Regions from separate parts of the Homo sapiens genome. Here region 1 is reported to be linked to region 2. The links are microRNA targets in miRTarBase. Many come from high-throughput screens and were not tested one by one. Region 2 holds a microRNA gene; the other region holds the end of a gene's coding sequence.
The links. The annotated mature microRNA hsa-miR-196a-3p reads CGGCAACAAGAAACUGCCUGAG and lies in region 2 at 2,558-2,579, shown strand. An mRNA with a match to its seed (bases 2 to 7 or 8) in the 3' UTR can be bound and repressed. Matches are read on the target gene's strand: a 7mer-m8 pairs with bases 2 to 8, a 7mer-A1 pairs with bases 2 to 7 and ends in A, and an 8mer does both.

Region 1 (7,098 bases), not on the chromosome of region 2:
ACTGCAGTCTTGACCTCCCAGGCTCAGGTGGTTCTCCCACCTCAGCCTTCTGAGTAGCTGGGACTACAGGTGCATGCCACCATGCCCAGCTAATTTTTTGTATTTTTAGTAGAGACAGGATTTCACCATGTTGCCCAGTCTGATCTTGAACTTCTGGACTCAAGCAATCCACCTGCCTTAGCCTCACAAAGTGCTGGGATTACAGGCGTGAGCCACCATGCCCGGCCAGTTTCTTTATTCATCTTTTCATATTCATTCCCTCTTAGATGTTAGTAGCAGAATTCAGTAGAACTGACTAAAGCAGGGAACAAATTTTGTATACATCAAGATTTTTTTGAAGGGGCGGGAAAGGCTAAATTCTTCCTAGTTTTAAGGTAAGCCAGGAAATCAAACTAGTCTTTCAACAGTTTGAAAAAAAATGCTGATTGTTTTGGATAGTCTGTTTTTTTCTGACATGTGTAATGTCATTGTATGTGTGACTCCTTTGTACATTAGTTGCTTGTTTGAAATTACCACGAGGGCTTCACAGTAGCTCTCTCACACTTGATTATGTCAAAAGATAACATATAGCCCCTTATTCAGTGGACCTTCCCTTTGCTAATAGTATAAAATACTATTTTATTTACTTTCCCAAATTTTGGTAGAGAAAAACTTCACACTAAAAATGACTAAAATGGGCTGGGCGTGGGTGGCTCACACCTGTAATCCTAGCACTTTGGGAGGCTGAGATGGATGGCTTGCACCCAGGAGTTCAAGACCAGCCTGGGCAACATGACAAAACCCTATCTCTACAAAAAATACACAAACTAGTTTGGCGTGGTGGCGGGCACTTGTGGTCCCAACTACTCAGGAGGCTGAGGAGGAGGAGCCTGAGGTGGGAGGATCACTTGAGTCCAGAAGGAGCCATGATTGCACCACTGCAGTCAGCCTGGGTGACAGACCCTGCCTTAAAAAAAAAAAAACCCAAAACGTAACATTTTTGGTTCCGGTTCAGTCTATTTAAAATACCATTTATTTTCTTAACTGCACAAAATTAGGAAAATAAAGGAAAAAATACAATTATTTCTTCCACAGAAATGCCTGAATATTAGCAGTTATTTATTTTTTTGTTTCTGCATATATTATAAATATTATTCAAAGTTGGGGTCTTGTTTTGATTCTGCTTTTCTGATATATGAACACTGGATATTAAGGGTTCATTCAGATTTTTACTTGGTTTCAGATTGGGGTATAACATTTTGAATTTAAAATAGAACTGCAGGAAACCTTTTCTTTTTTTCCTCCCAAAGGTTTGATTGTTATGGTGGTGGACTTTCCAAGATCAACACTCCTTTATTGACACCTCTTAAATTGTCACTAGAAGAATGGAGCACAAAGCCAACTAACGACAGCTATGGATTATTTGCGGTTGTGATGCATAGTGGCATTACAATTAGTAGTGGGCATTACACTGCTTCTGTTAAAGTCACTGACCTTAACAGTTTAGAACTAGATAAAGGAAATTTTGTGGTTGACCAAATGTGTGAAATAGGTAAGCCAGAACCATTGAATGAGGAGGAAGCAAGGGGTGTGGTTGAGAATTATAATGATGAAGAAGTGTCAATTAGAGTTGGTGGAAATACACAGCCAAGTAAAGTTTTGAACAAAAAAAATGTAGAAGCTATTGGACTTCTTGGAGGACAAAAGAGCAAAGCAGATTATGAGCTATACAACAAAGCCTCTAATCCTGATAAGGTTGCTAGTACAGCGTTTGCTGAAAATAGAAATTCTGAGACTAGTGATACTACTGGGACCCATGAATCTGATAGAAACAAGGAATCCAGTGACCAAACAGGCATTAATATTAGTGGATTTGAGAACAAAATTTCATACGTAGTGCAAAGCTTAAAGGAGTATGAGGGGAAGTGGTTGCTTTTTGATGATTCTGAAGTCAAAGTTACTGAAGAGAAGGACTTTCTGAATTCTCTTTCCCCTTCTACATCTCCTACTTCTACTCCTTACTTGCTATTTTATAAGAAATTATAGAGTGAGTGTATTTTCCTTGTGTATATATTAAACACACCCATACAAACATTGGTAAAGTTGATTACATCAAAGAATCTTTAGCTTATCTTTTGAAGCTACTGGATATTATTGGTCTCTCTAGGTTTTTATATAAATAGTGAAATTTGAATTACTGAAAACCATGTTAATTTTTAGAACTCATTTTCCTCAGTAGAGACTAGTGATGCATTAGCTTCTGGGAACAAACTTGTATCGGTTCTTAATTAAATTATCCAAAACGGAGGCATTTAAACACTTGGATTTACACCAGTCTTTTGTGTTTGCTTTTTAAAATAAAGTGCTCGTATTTGTATTCTCCATATTTTGGAGTAATTATCTACATGATGTTTATAGTTCCTGTGGTTTTTCACCCAAGAAGCAGAATCTCATTCAGTACATTTAGTTTTATAAGAGTCATGAAGCTAAATCCTTGGGCTATGTCAGAGGCACAAAGTCTAGAATGTGTGTATTCACAATGGTGTATGTACATTTTGTGCCTTGATTCACTTAGAAGTGTCTCAGAAAACCTGGACAGTTCGCTTCTACACAAGAATTTTATATGTATTTATGAAGATGATTCTGTACCCTAGTATATCTTTTTGGGCATGGACTAATTTGTATCTGTTTAACTCATATTCTGCACGATCTGTATATAGTACATCAAACTTAGAGGTGTGACCTTAAATTTAACTTTTTTTAAAAACTGGGAGGTCAATAAAATTTAAACTGCTTAACTATGTATATGAATATTTGAATTTTTTACTTGTATATTTTTATAAATACAGCTGAGTTTTCTTAAAGCGAATAAGTGTGTGTATATATATATGTATATATATGAGAGAATAAGCATGCATAATTACCTTTATTACTGAATACTTTCTGACAGTGCAGGAGTTTTTCAAAGAGGAGAAATTGTGCTTAGTCCAGCCAAGCTGTCATACTTAAAAGAGGTTTATAATGAAATCTGTTGCATCTAATTGTCCTTTAAAGTAGACATGATTTAATGGAATCCAAAACTGGAAAAGTTAAGATGATGCTTTGGGCACACATAAAAACTTGGTTAAAATTTCATTTTAAACTAGTATACTGAAGTGGTAAGTGATGAATGATTTCATGACTTGTTAATGGACATTCTTGGTACTAAGTTTTTCCTAGAAATGATTCTAAATATGTAAATGCTATTGGGGTAACACTTTAATACCCCATTTCAACAAGGAGTACCTTCTCAATTAAAAAAAAATCGCAGTAGGCTGGGCGCGGTGGCTCACGCCTGTAATCCCAGCACATTGGGAGGCTGAGGCTGGTGGATCACGAGGTCAGGAGATCGAGATCATCCTGGCTAACACATGAAATCCCGTCTCTACTAAAAATACAAAAAATTAGCCGGGCGTGGTGGCAGGCATCTGTAGTCCCAGCTACTCAGGAGGCGGAGGCAGGAGAATGGCATGAACCCAGGAGGCGGAGCTTGCAGTGAGCCGAGATTGCGCCACTGCACTCCAGCCTGGGCAACAGAGTGAGACTCCGTCTCAAAAAAAAAAAAACACAGTTACATAATGTCTTATATTCTTTCATAGGATGATGAGATGGTAATAAAGTCATGGTTCTCCCCACCTTTCAGAATCACTAATGGAAATCCTTAAACAGTCCTGAGCGCTACCTGTAAGTTTTGAATGGAATGGGTCTAAGATAGACACTGGGCCTCTTAATACTCGAGAGACAGCCAGTTCTAAGAACTAACACAAATTCCTGATGTGAGAAAGTTCCATTTTAAGAAAAATGAAGTTTGTAAGAGGTTTGTATCATACGAATGTTTAAGAGGAAGCCTCTGTTCTGAAGGATGTCAGAAAATAATTGGTTTTGCATAATTATATAAATCATAAAGTCCTTGATATTACTGAGATTTCTGAGATTTTTGTCCAAACTGTTATATAAATGTAACCTAATGAGAAGTGACCCTTCAGTGGTTCCTTATTCTCTCCCTTATGTTTATACCCACCACTGACCCCCAAAGAAGAAGGGAAAATGTCACTTTTTTTGGAGGGGAGGGATTTCCATTCTTGACTCCTTACCTTTCCTTATTGTTCATTTGGCTCCTCAAATAGAGTTTTGAGGTTATGCCCTTCTGACTCAGATTTGGTCTAACAATGTAGACTCATCTGAAAAATGTTTTTGTGATTCAGTCTTTGAATTGATATAGATAAGAGGAATTTGAGATGATACTGCCCATTAAAGTACATGGAGTGTGGGATATCAACCATCACTTAGGCTCTCAGAAGTAGATATTTTTTAGTATATTTTGAATATTTACTACATTGACTATAGAATGAAGGCAATACGTTAAATCTGACCAGTTTTTGTTTTTTTTTTTTGAAACGGAGTCTAGCTCTGTCACCCAGGCTGGAGTGCAGTGGCGTGATCTCAGCTCACTGCAAGCTCCGCCTCCCGGGTTCACGCCATTCTCCTGCCTCAGCCTCCCGAGTAGCTGGGACTACAGGCTCCTGCCCCCTCGCCTGGCTAATTTTTTGTATTTTTAGTAGAGACGGGGTTTGACTGTTAGCCAGGATGGTCTCAATCTCCTGACCTCGTGATCTGTCTGCCTCGGCCTCCCAAAGTGCTGGTTTTTGTTTTTGACTTAAGAGTCTTGCTCTGTCGCCCAGGCTGAAGTGCAGTGGCGCCATTTTGGCTCGCTGCAACCTCCACTTTCCAGGTTCCAGTGATTCTCATGCCTCAGCCACCCAAGTAGTTCGGATTACAGGCACGGGCTACTACACCTGGCTGATTTTTGTGTTTTTGGTAGAGATGGGGTTTCACCATATTGACCAGGCTGTTCTTGAACTCCTGGCCTCATGATCCGCCTGCCCCTGCCTCCCAGAGTGCTGGGATTATAGGCCTGAGCCACTGCACCCAGCCAATCTGATCAGTTCTTTTATATATATGTGTGTGTATGTATGTATGTGTGTGTGCGTGTGTGTACAGATGATAGTTTTTTTTTTTTTTTTTTTTTTGAGACGGAGTCTCTGTCGCCCAGGCTAGAGTTGCAGTGGCTCCATCTCTGCTCACTCCAACCTCTGCTGCCCGGGTTCAAGCGATTCTCCTGCTTCAGTCTCCCAAGTAGCTGGGATTACAGGCTCCTGCCACTGTGCCTGGCTAATTAATTTCTGTATTTTTAGTAGAGACGGGTTTTCACCATCTTGGCCAGGCTGGTCTTGAACTCCTGACTTCGTGATCCACCCGCCTCGGCCTCCCAAAGTGTTGGGATTACAGATGTGAGCCACCGCACCCAGATCTGGTTAGTTCTTAAGTGATTCATGTAACTGGTCAGTAGAAGAAAAGGATTATAAATGATGCCATTCTGTAAACTGCACTACTACCCAAAAACCATTGTTCTAAACTGTTCTGGAAATCATTACTATGCATCGTTTTGGAAAAACTTGCCAAGAATTAAAATGTTACTTCTCAAATTTTTTTTCTGTATGACTTGCATATAATTTTAGATGAATTAAAGCACCTAATTTTACTTTTTATATGCTTCTAAACTTTACAAGTGTCAGAAAATAGGTAATTTCTCAAACTCCAGCTGTGTTACCTTCATGGTGCTACAAGATAGCTTTAAGTAGATTCTAATTTACTGGTTTACATCGTCAAAAACTGATGGCTGGTTTTAATTTGAAACAGAGAAATCATTCATTTTAGTTGCTAAGAATCATGAAGTTCTTACTACTATCATTGGTGTAATAAGATTTAATCAAGTTAAGGTGTTGTCACTGGTATTAGTTATCCCCGTATTTAAATTATTTTACACAAAGGTTTTACTAAGTAAAGTTCTGCAATTCTAAATTCCTGTTTTGGGTATGTAAATGGAAAATAACTTTGAAACAGTTACCAAACTCATTAATTTGGGGCTATCTATGATTTTTATTCTGCTAGGTTTGGAACTAGTTCTTGAGTCAACCCTTTAATTGTTCTCTGCCATTGTCAATAATAAAAATTTTGAAGTCCCACTCGGTAAAATTAGTGTAAACATTCACATATTTAATAGTACCTTTAAAATAAGCATTACTACATTTAAAATGGTTCCAAAATGAATCTATAAATGGTAATATAAATTAAAAAATACGAACTTAAAGTGAATAAATTTTTAACCTTAGCTATGGTATAAATAATGGTAAATGTATAGTGTACCTTTGAGTCATTAAAATGTCTTAAAAGATAACAGCTTGTTACCAGAACATTAGAAACCATAGCCATGATTCTCAAGCGTTAACAATCTACATTTGATATTTTCTTGGCCACTGCATTCTTCAATGAATAATAATTTCCAGAATTCCATTCCATGTTGTTTTCCAATAGATCTTTTCACACTCGATGTTGAATACATGGCTCTTTGCAGATGAATAAAACAAGTGCATTCAGTTTAGAGATCCATTTTGCGAAGGCTCATTCGACTGAAGGAATCTCTGGGAAAAAAATGAGAGGACATAGTTAGTTAAAGAGAACAATTTTTGCATATACCTTTAAATGTCTTACATGGTTTTTTCTGCCAGTTACCTTAAAGTTTTGCCACCATTTCTTACTAACTTCCAAGTTGGATGCTCATCCTACCTACTCTGCCTTATATTTTGGCTTATAGATTTAGCTATAGAAGTGTATTACAGTCACCACTTACTGGTCTTTTGTATTCGTTTGTCTGACTGATGCTGCAGATATTGTAATAAACAAGACAAGGACTTAAGGGATAATGGGAGAGATTTTAGGAAAAGATTTGGGGTTTTTTACACGGCAAAAGGCAGGTGTTTATTAAATTTTAAGTCTTAAACCAGTTCTCAAACTTTGTCTCAGGTCCCTTTTACACTCTTAAAAATTATTGAGAACCCCAGGAATCTTTTATGTGGGCTATATATGGATGTTTATCATATCAGAAATTAAAACTAAGAACATCTTAAGTTACTATAAAATAACCCATTACATGTTACTATAAATAGCATTGCTTATTAAAAATGATCTGCAAGAAGCTTTAGGAGAGTGGTACTCATGTAGGAGTGTGGCTTAATGCCT
Region 2 (7,114 bases):
TACTAAACACCAGACGCTGGAATTGGAGAAAGAATTTCTGTTCAATATGTATTTGACGCGAGAGCGCCGCCTGGAGATTAGCAAGACCATTAACCTTACAGACAGACAAGTCAAAATCTGGTTTCAAAATCGCAGAATGAAACTCAAGAAAATGAACCGAGAGAATCGGATCCGGGAACTGACCTCCAATTTTAATTTCACCTGAGAGCGCGGCCTCTCCTCCTCCCTTCCCGCTCCTTCCTCTCCCCGCCCCTCCTCCCTTTGTGCCTGGTGATATATTTTTTTTTCCTCCCTGAGTATAAATGCAATGCGACTGCAAAAAAGGCAAAGACCTCAGACTCTCCTTCCAAGGGACCTGTGGTTCGTGCTGCGAAGATGCTTCCACTTAAAGCATGAGAAATGGGGTGCCGGGATGTGGGGTGTGGTGTGTGCCCTCATAGATGGGGGTGGGAGTGTGGCTGGTGTGTGTGTCAAGCCCTCACTCACCCACGCACTCACACACAGCATTCTGTTCTCCATGCAAAGTTAAGATCGAATCCATCCGCTTGTAGGGGAAAAAAAGGAAAAAAATTAACCAGAGAGGGTCTGTAATCTCGCAGAGCACAGGCAGAATCGTTCCTTCCTTGCTGCATTTCCTCCTTAGACTAATAGACGTTTTGGAAAGTTCGGCTAGTGTTCGTGTGTTTGTCGTAGCACCCAGAGCCTCCACCAAACCCTCTCCATGTCTTTACCTCCCAGTCGCTCTAAGAATCTGCTTGAAGTCTCGTATTTGTACTGCTTTCTGCTTTTCTCCCACCCCTCCTAGCACCCCCACATCCCCCATCTAGTAACATCTCAGAAATTTCATCCAGAGGAACAAAAAAATTAAAAATAGAACATAGCAAAGCAAAGACAGAATGCCCCCCCCCCCAAATATTGTCCTGTCCCTGTCTGGGAGTTGTGTTATTTAAAGATATTCTGTATGTTGTATCTTTTGCATGTAGCTTCCTTAATGGAGAAAAAAAAACCTAATAAATTTCCAGAATCATAATCCTCAAATGGATGGTTTTTTGTTTTTAGTGATTTTTAGCAACACCCCTCCCCCGAAGAGGCTGAGTGTGTGGATGTGTGTGTTTTGTGTTTGACTCATCTCCTAGAGCCTTTCTAGAACGTCTCTTGGCGGGTTTAATGTAAGTGAGAGACCATAACGTTGATTTAAATATTATCCAGGTGACCACAATAAGTCAAGGTCATAAAACAGTAATGTCAGGACGGTCTTGGTGCGCGCGAGAGGTGGATTTTATGATCTGCAAATATAATGTGGTGCTGCAGTAAAAGATGCATTTAAAGGTGACTGGAGGAGGGAAAGAGGCAGAGAGCAAGCTGCAATCTTGAGGAGCAGACGGATCTGATTGCCTGGGGTGCTGGGCTGGGCGCACCCCACTGCTGCTGGGGGTCACCCCAAGAGCCCCCCACCCATCCAAGGAAAGGAATAAACTTAACCGCTGGAGGGGCATGAGGAGCTCAGCCCCCCCAACCTCGACAGCAGCTAACAGAAACGCCAGGAGCAGCAGGAGGAGGAGGCAGCGACAAGGTAAGAGAAGCGGTTTCTTGTTCTTCTCTTGGCGGCGGAGTGGGGATGAGCGGTGTCCCCAGGTGTCCGGCGTGCAGCGGACAGAGCCTGGAGGAAGGTGTTTAGGGCATCCGTGCTTGCCGAGAACCCAGGCTTTCCTAGTGGCCGCTGGCAGCGGAGGGCAGCGACTGGGAGCTCCCTCTCCTTCCCTCCCGGGCCCATTGCCATGGGGGTTCCACAGTTAAAGGGATAAATTGATGGTTTTTGGCTTCTTTATCTTTTCGGGCACTTTGGGTCTCCTCGAAGTCGACACTCTGGTCTAGGTGTTGCTCAGTCTGGTCGTCTGTTGGTGGGGGAGGAGGAGTACAGAGGGTTGAAGCTTGAAGCTTAGGTTTTCCTGCTTTTCGCTGGTTTGGATGTGAGCCTCGTCCAGCCTCTTGTTCCCTGTGCTCCCTGGCTGTAACGTTTTGCCAGGCAAGTGGCCTGATTGGAAGTGGCTCCAGAGCACAGGGCTATGATTCAGCTACCCACATTCGCTGAGAAGCCTAAACCGAGCTGAGAGGGAGAGGATCAGAGGGAGTCTAGCAGGAGAGTGCAGGAGAGCCAGATGGACAAGACAGGGGACCCAGCTCCAGAGTGGAAGGAAGATCCAGCTTCCCCCAGGGCCAGGGCCAGATGCAGGGGAATAGCTCCACTGCGGTGCTGGGGGTGGGGCAGGTATTTGGCCGCCAGTGGTCCCATTTCACCAGATTTTTCCTGAGCAATTTGCTTAGACCAGAAACTAATGAAGGCAGTCAGACCCCTTACCCACCCAGCAACCCAAAGTCTACTCTCTAGTCCTTAGGGAGGTTGTGGGGGCGGAAAGGGGGACGGGGCTGAATTTCTTCCTTCCCCAACCCCCTTCCCTTCTCCTCCAGATAGATGCAAAGCTGAATCTCCCGCCCTGCTCGCTCAGCTGATCTGTGGCTTAGGTAGTTTCATGTTGTTGGGATTGAGTTTTGAACTCGGCAACAAGAAACTGCCTGAGTTACATCAGTCGGTTTTCGTCGAGGGCCCCAACCCACCTCTCCCACTCCTACCCTCCCCAGTGGGACTGCCCCACTGCCCCCTCCCAGATAGGGCAAAGTGGGTGCAGACCAAGGAGGACAAGCTGTGAGTGGGGTTGCAGAACAAGTCTGGAGAACCCTGCTTTATGCCGTCCTCTCAACCTATCCCAATCCCTGTGATTAAGGGAGAGGAGTCTTTCCTGCAGCTATTGTCTCCTGGGCCCAGCTGATGGAGACAGACAAAGAGGGTCCAGCCAATTCCAAGGAAATTCAGGAGTTTGAGTAAGAGGTGGCCTGGCGGGCCAGCTCAGTTGGGCAGCAGGGTGGGGCAGAATTATTAGCAGAAAGAGGAGCACAGAAAGAGAAGACGGTCTCTGGAATGGTTAGCCTCTCCCACCTACCACCTCCAGTCGACTGGGGCTCAAGATTCTCCTTAGAAAAGTGGGGTACCTGGAGGTTCCAAGAGTTGGGGAACTCTGAGCGCCAGCCCAGCCCTTTCCCCTTCCCCTTCTATAGCTCCATCTCCAGGGGAAGGACATGTTTGGGGTGTTGGTAGGTTAGAGGAAAGCCATCAAAGTCCAAGTAGAACCCCTCACACACGCACACGCACGCAACTGGGAAACATCAGGGCAAAAACCTGACTCTGGTCTCTGTTTAGTCGTCTGTGGCCTGAAGGCCTCAGTTTCTGTGGCTGTGACTGTCAGGCAGCTGCCTGTCTTTGCACTATGTGGAAACATCTGGGTGAACAGAGGCTGCCCGTGCCCACCATTGCTATGTTGGTGGAAAGGTTGTTGGCTGATGCCAGGGGGAGGAGGGGAGGAGAATGGGGTAGAGGAAAATCTGAGCAGTGTGAAACTTTGCAAAGCTTCCTCTCATCCTTTCCCCCTTGGTTCTTCAATTCTGGCCCTGGTTGCTACAGAGAAAGTTCTCAAAAGAGGTTTCTTTGCCTGCCTGCGGGCGGAGTTGGGGGGGGGGGAATAAATGGGGGAGGGGTTATGGAGACTGAGGAGATACACCCCTGTTCTCAGAGATACTGGGGAAGAGAAGCCAAAAGAAGGTCAGGTTCTTGGTTCTCTTACTTTGAAATTATTATGATTATTAAAACATTATAAACGTCTAGACAGGGAAACAAAATTATGTCCCTGTAACAAAATATATACAGAGTTCTATATTCTCACAGTCATCTGCTGGGAGGGATATATGTGACCTTGTATGAGTGTAGGGCTCTGTTTCTGTCTCCCCTAGGCTCTCTTAAATACCCTGTATGTATTTATACGCATACACATTTATTTTTCCCCTCTCTTATGCGAACATATTTGTTTTGACTCCCAAGGAAGCTGGAGGAGAAAATGGGAATAGAATTTCCTGTCTCCCTAGCTGGATTGTTGGTCTGTCTGTCCCCCATCCCTTTGTGAGAGAAAAAATTTCTTCTCTTGGAGAGAAGTATTCAAACCTCTCTATGGCTCCCAGGGAAATGGGGAAGTTTCCAGAGAGTCAGGCCAGCTGGTGGGAAGCAGGCAAGGGATTCCCCTAGTTTGGGAGCTCCTAGCAGCCTTTGAGTCTTCAGGCTGCCCCAGGCACACAGTCAGTTGGGGCAAAGCGTGTCCCAGGCAGGGACTGGGTGCTCAGGAGCATTTGGCTTGGAGATAGAGTCCCTGATGGGCCGAAATTCACTAATGAACGACTTCTGTGCTTTGGGTCTCTGTGCCCCCATTTCCGTTTCAGAGCTGTTGGGCTTATGTGTGGGAGGTCAGAGAGCCAGGGGTTGAGGTGTCTCCTCCCCAAATGCAGAGAAATGGAGCGAGGTCTCATAGGGCCAAGGTGAGGACCAGTCTGGTGGTCAGAGTCCACCCCCGGCACAAGGCCGTGGATCATGGCTAAGGCGATGGTAATTATTTATTCCCTTCGCCGGAAGGGAGTCTTCAGAAGGAACAGCGTGAAGAGAAGAGAAAAAATTATCTCTCTCGTCTGTGGATATTAAGATGGATTTTTATTTCTTAAAGGACCCTCCCCGCCGAGAGCGCATAAGCGTAAACTTAATATATGCTCCGCAGCCCAACTCCAGAAATCGCAATAAAAGTTAAAACCTCCCCTACTGTTTTTTTTTTAATTATGATATGGGAAAGAGGAGCAGGATTTATAGAGCTGAACTCTCAGTGTATGAATGTTTGAGACTTGCGGGAGGAAGAAAAGGCAAGAGCTCGCCAAGGCGAGCCTTGGTCTCTGAGATCTCTCGTCGGCTGCTGGGGCTCCGGCTCAGCCTGGCAGATCCGCTGTGGCCTCTCTGGGACCTCGCCCCGGCCCACGGCCTGACTTCGGCTCGGAGATGCAGCCCTTCCCGAGAACAGGTGAAGAAGACGGCGGCAGCGGGGACTGGGGGCTTCGGGTGGGAACGCCAGGGCTCAGGGCTTTGTGTGGGTCGTGCAGGGGGCGAGGTTCGAAGTCCTGGGCTGGACCGCAGCACGAGTGTGGCCCGGACGGCTGCGTGGCCAGAAGGGGTGTTCGGGCAGGGTGCGAGAGCACCGGCAAGGTGGATTGTGTATGGACTTTGGCCGCAGACAGAGCAGAGCGGGCTCCCGGGCTGTGGCCGGCGGCGAGGCGGGCAACCGCATGTTGAGTCTATAGAAAGGACCTTGAGGTCTGCTGGGTGTTTGGGCTGCCCTGGGGGCGGCGGCCCAGAGTGTGGAGCAAGCGGCGCGCGGGGCGCGGCGGTCAGCGTGGGAGAGGCTGCAGGCCCTGCACGCCTCTGCAGCTGCCGGGCCGTGTCCGGGACGTCTGAACTGAGGCCGACCAATGGTCACAGCATGAAAAATAAATGCAATGGAAGGTCTTTCTGTCTTTTCTTTTCCGCGTAAAAGGTCCTTTCTTTTTTCTCTCTTTCGGATATACCTGGATTTGGTCCAGACCAGGTTGCCCGCGGGAGGGCCCCGCGAGCGGCAGCGCGCGAGGGAGGGAGAGAGAGGGAGGGCGAGAAGGAGGGAGGGAGGGAAGGAGGGCGGGCGGCGGCGGCCGTGGTGGCCGGGGCTTCCCTCCCCAGGCGGGAGCCGCCTGTCCTGTATCTATGGCCGTGGGGAGCGAAGGACCAGGTAACGAAGGCGCTTCCGAAGCGGGATTGGACCAAACCAGAGGGACAGAGTCTTCTGGGTCTCTCTGCCTGAGGCCCTGGAGGGAGAGAAGGTAGGGAGATCGGCGCCCGCCGGGCCTGGCAAAGAGGCCTCGGGAAATGTTGAACCTGTATGTGATCTCAGGCTCACACTCATGTTGTGGGTCTGTCTGCCTCAGGAGATGCGGTTTGCCTTTCTGTCTGAGACGCCCCAAACCCTGAGCTCTCCTTCCCAAGGCTGGAAAAAAAATCGGGAAAAACGGCGGAATTTGCACTTTCATTCATTGGGTTATCTGCAACTGAGAGGGGCTGGTTAAGGCGTCCCCAAGTTGGAAGGGCGCTTTGCTTCTGTTTTCTGGATGCAGAGTCCTCTGACTCCCTCTGCCACGGGCTGAGTTTCCGGCTCCAGGTTCGCGTGTCGCCCTGAGGTTTGAGGCCAGACAGCTCGCAGTCGGGCAGGGAGGGCGGGGGAGAGACGAGCGGCTCTGGCCCCTTAATTGTACTTCGGGCTCGTATTGTCTCTCCTTTCGCCACCTCCGCTTCCTCAGTCTGGGCTCCAAAGTCACTGCAAATTTCCTTGCGACACATACATCACACAAAAGATCAGGTAACAAGGCGCTCAGGGCCACTGGGGCTCCGGGCAGGGCAGGGAGCGGCTCTAGCTCTGGGGCGGCTCCCCCTCCAGCCACTCCCAGGCTGGAAAACCAGACCGCGTTGGGGGAGCCGGAAATAGCCCCGCTTGCTGCGGAGCGTCAGGGCGGGGGCGCCGGCGGGAATGCAGGCCCGGCAGGCCGTGGCTTTGAGAGAGCCACGTTCACAGGCCCTGGGGATTTCACTCCTGCTGGGCCTCGGGACCTGACTCCTGGTGTGTAGGGATCCCAGATACCCACCTTGGGTGGGGGCAGGACGCGGGTTTCCTCGCGGCAGGCCAAGAGAACTCAGTTTCTGCTTCCAGCGCAGGCCTTAGCTAGGAGGAGTTGTGTGTGGGTGTGTTTTTCCCAACAAAGAGGGATCAGGAGAGAGAAGGGGGGAAAGTAGAGGGGAACCAGGGAGGGGGCGGGGAGGGGAAGAGGGCAGTGGAGAGGTGAAATGAGCCCATTTCAGGGGGAGAAGGAAAATGAAAGCAAATGGAGTACGGCCTTCTCCGCGCAGGGCGGGTGCTGACGAGCCGGGAGCGGGCTCCCTGCCTGCGGCAGCCGGGATGGCCCGCTGGGGACACCGGAGAAAGCCTGTTTTAAATTTAATCCGAACTTGACGGTGTGGATTGAACCGGAGGGAATTTAAATCACTAAAAGGAAGGCGCGGGGCAGGGGGAGGGGACGACTCTAACCTGTCTATCTTTCTGTCTGTCCTTCCCACGGTGCTAGTTTGGTTGTGGCCGCAGCTGCCCAGGTTTCAGGTGATGGAGTAAGG

Region 1: the mRNA of DOCK7 is a reported target of hsa-miR-196a-3p. The part of its 3' UTR that is shown has no 7-base or 8-base seed match.

The regions. Positions count from the first base shown.
Region 1 is chr1:62,448,957-62,456,054 of GRCh38, forward strand. DOCK7 (dedicator of cytokinesis 7) reads right to left here. Exons shown (of 50, transcript NM_001367561.1): 50 at 5,770-6,500. The coding sequence ends at 6,458. It overlaps USP1 (ubiquitin specific peptidase 1), which reads left to right. Exons shown (of 9, transcript NM_003368.5): 9 at 1,290-2,848. The coding sequence ends at 2,025. Among named protein-coding and RNA genes, the nearest start is that of USP1, 15 kb to the left of the region's middle.
Region 2 is chr12:53,989,242-53,996,355 of GRCh38, forward strand. MIR196A2 (microRNA 196a-2) reads left to right here and starts at 2,497; the gene lies at 2,497-2,606. It overlaps HOXC10 (homeobox C10), which reads left to right. Exons shown (of 2, transcript NM_017409.4): 2 at 1-1,038. The coding sequence ends at 205. It overlaps HOXC-AS2 (HOXC cluster antisense RNA 2), which reads right to left. Exons shown (of 3, transcript NR_047505.1): 2 at 6,592-6,668; 3 at 5,967-6,277. RefSeq lists an enhancer at 5,976-6,544.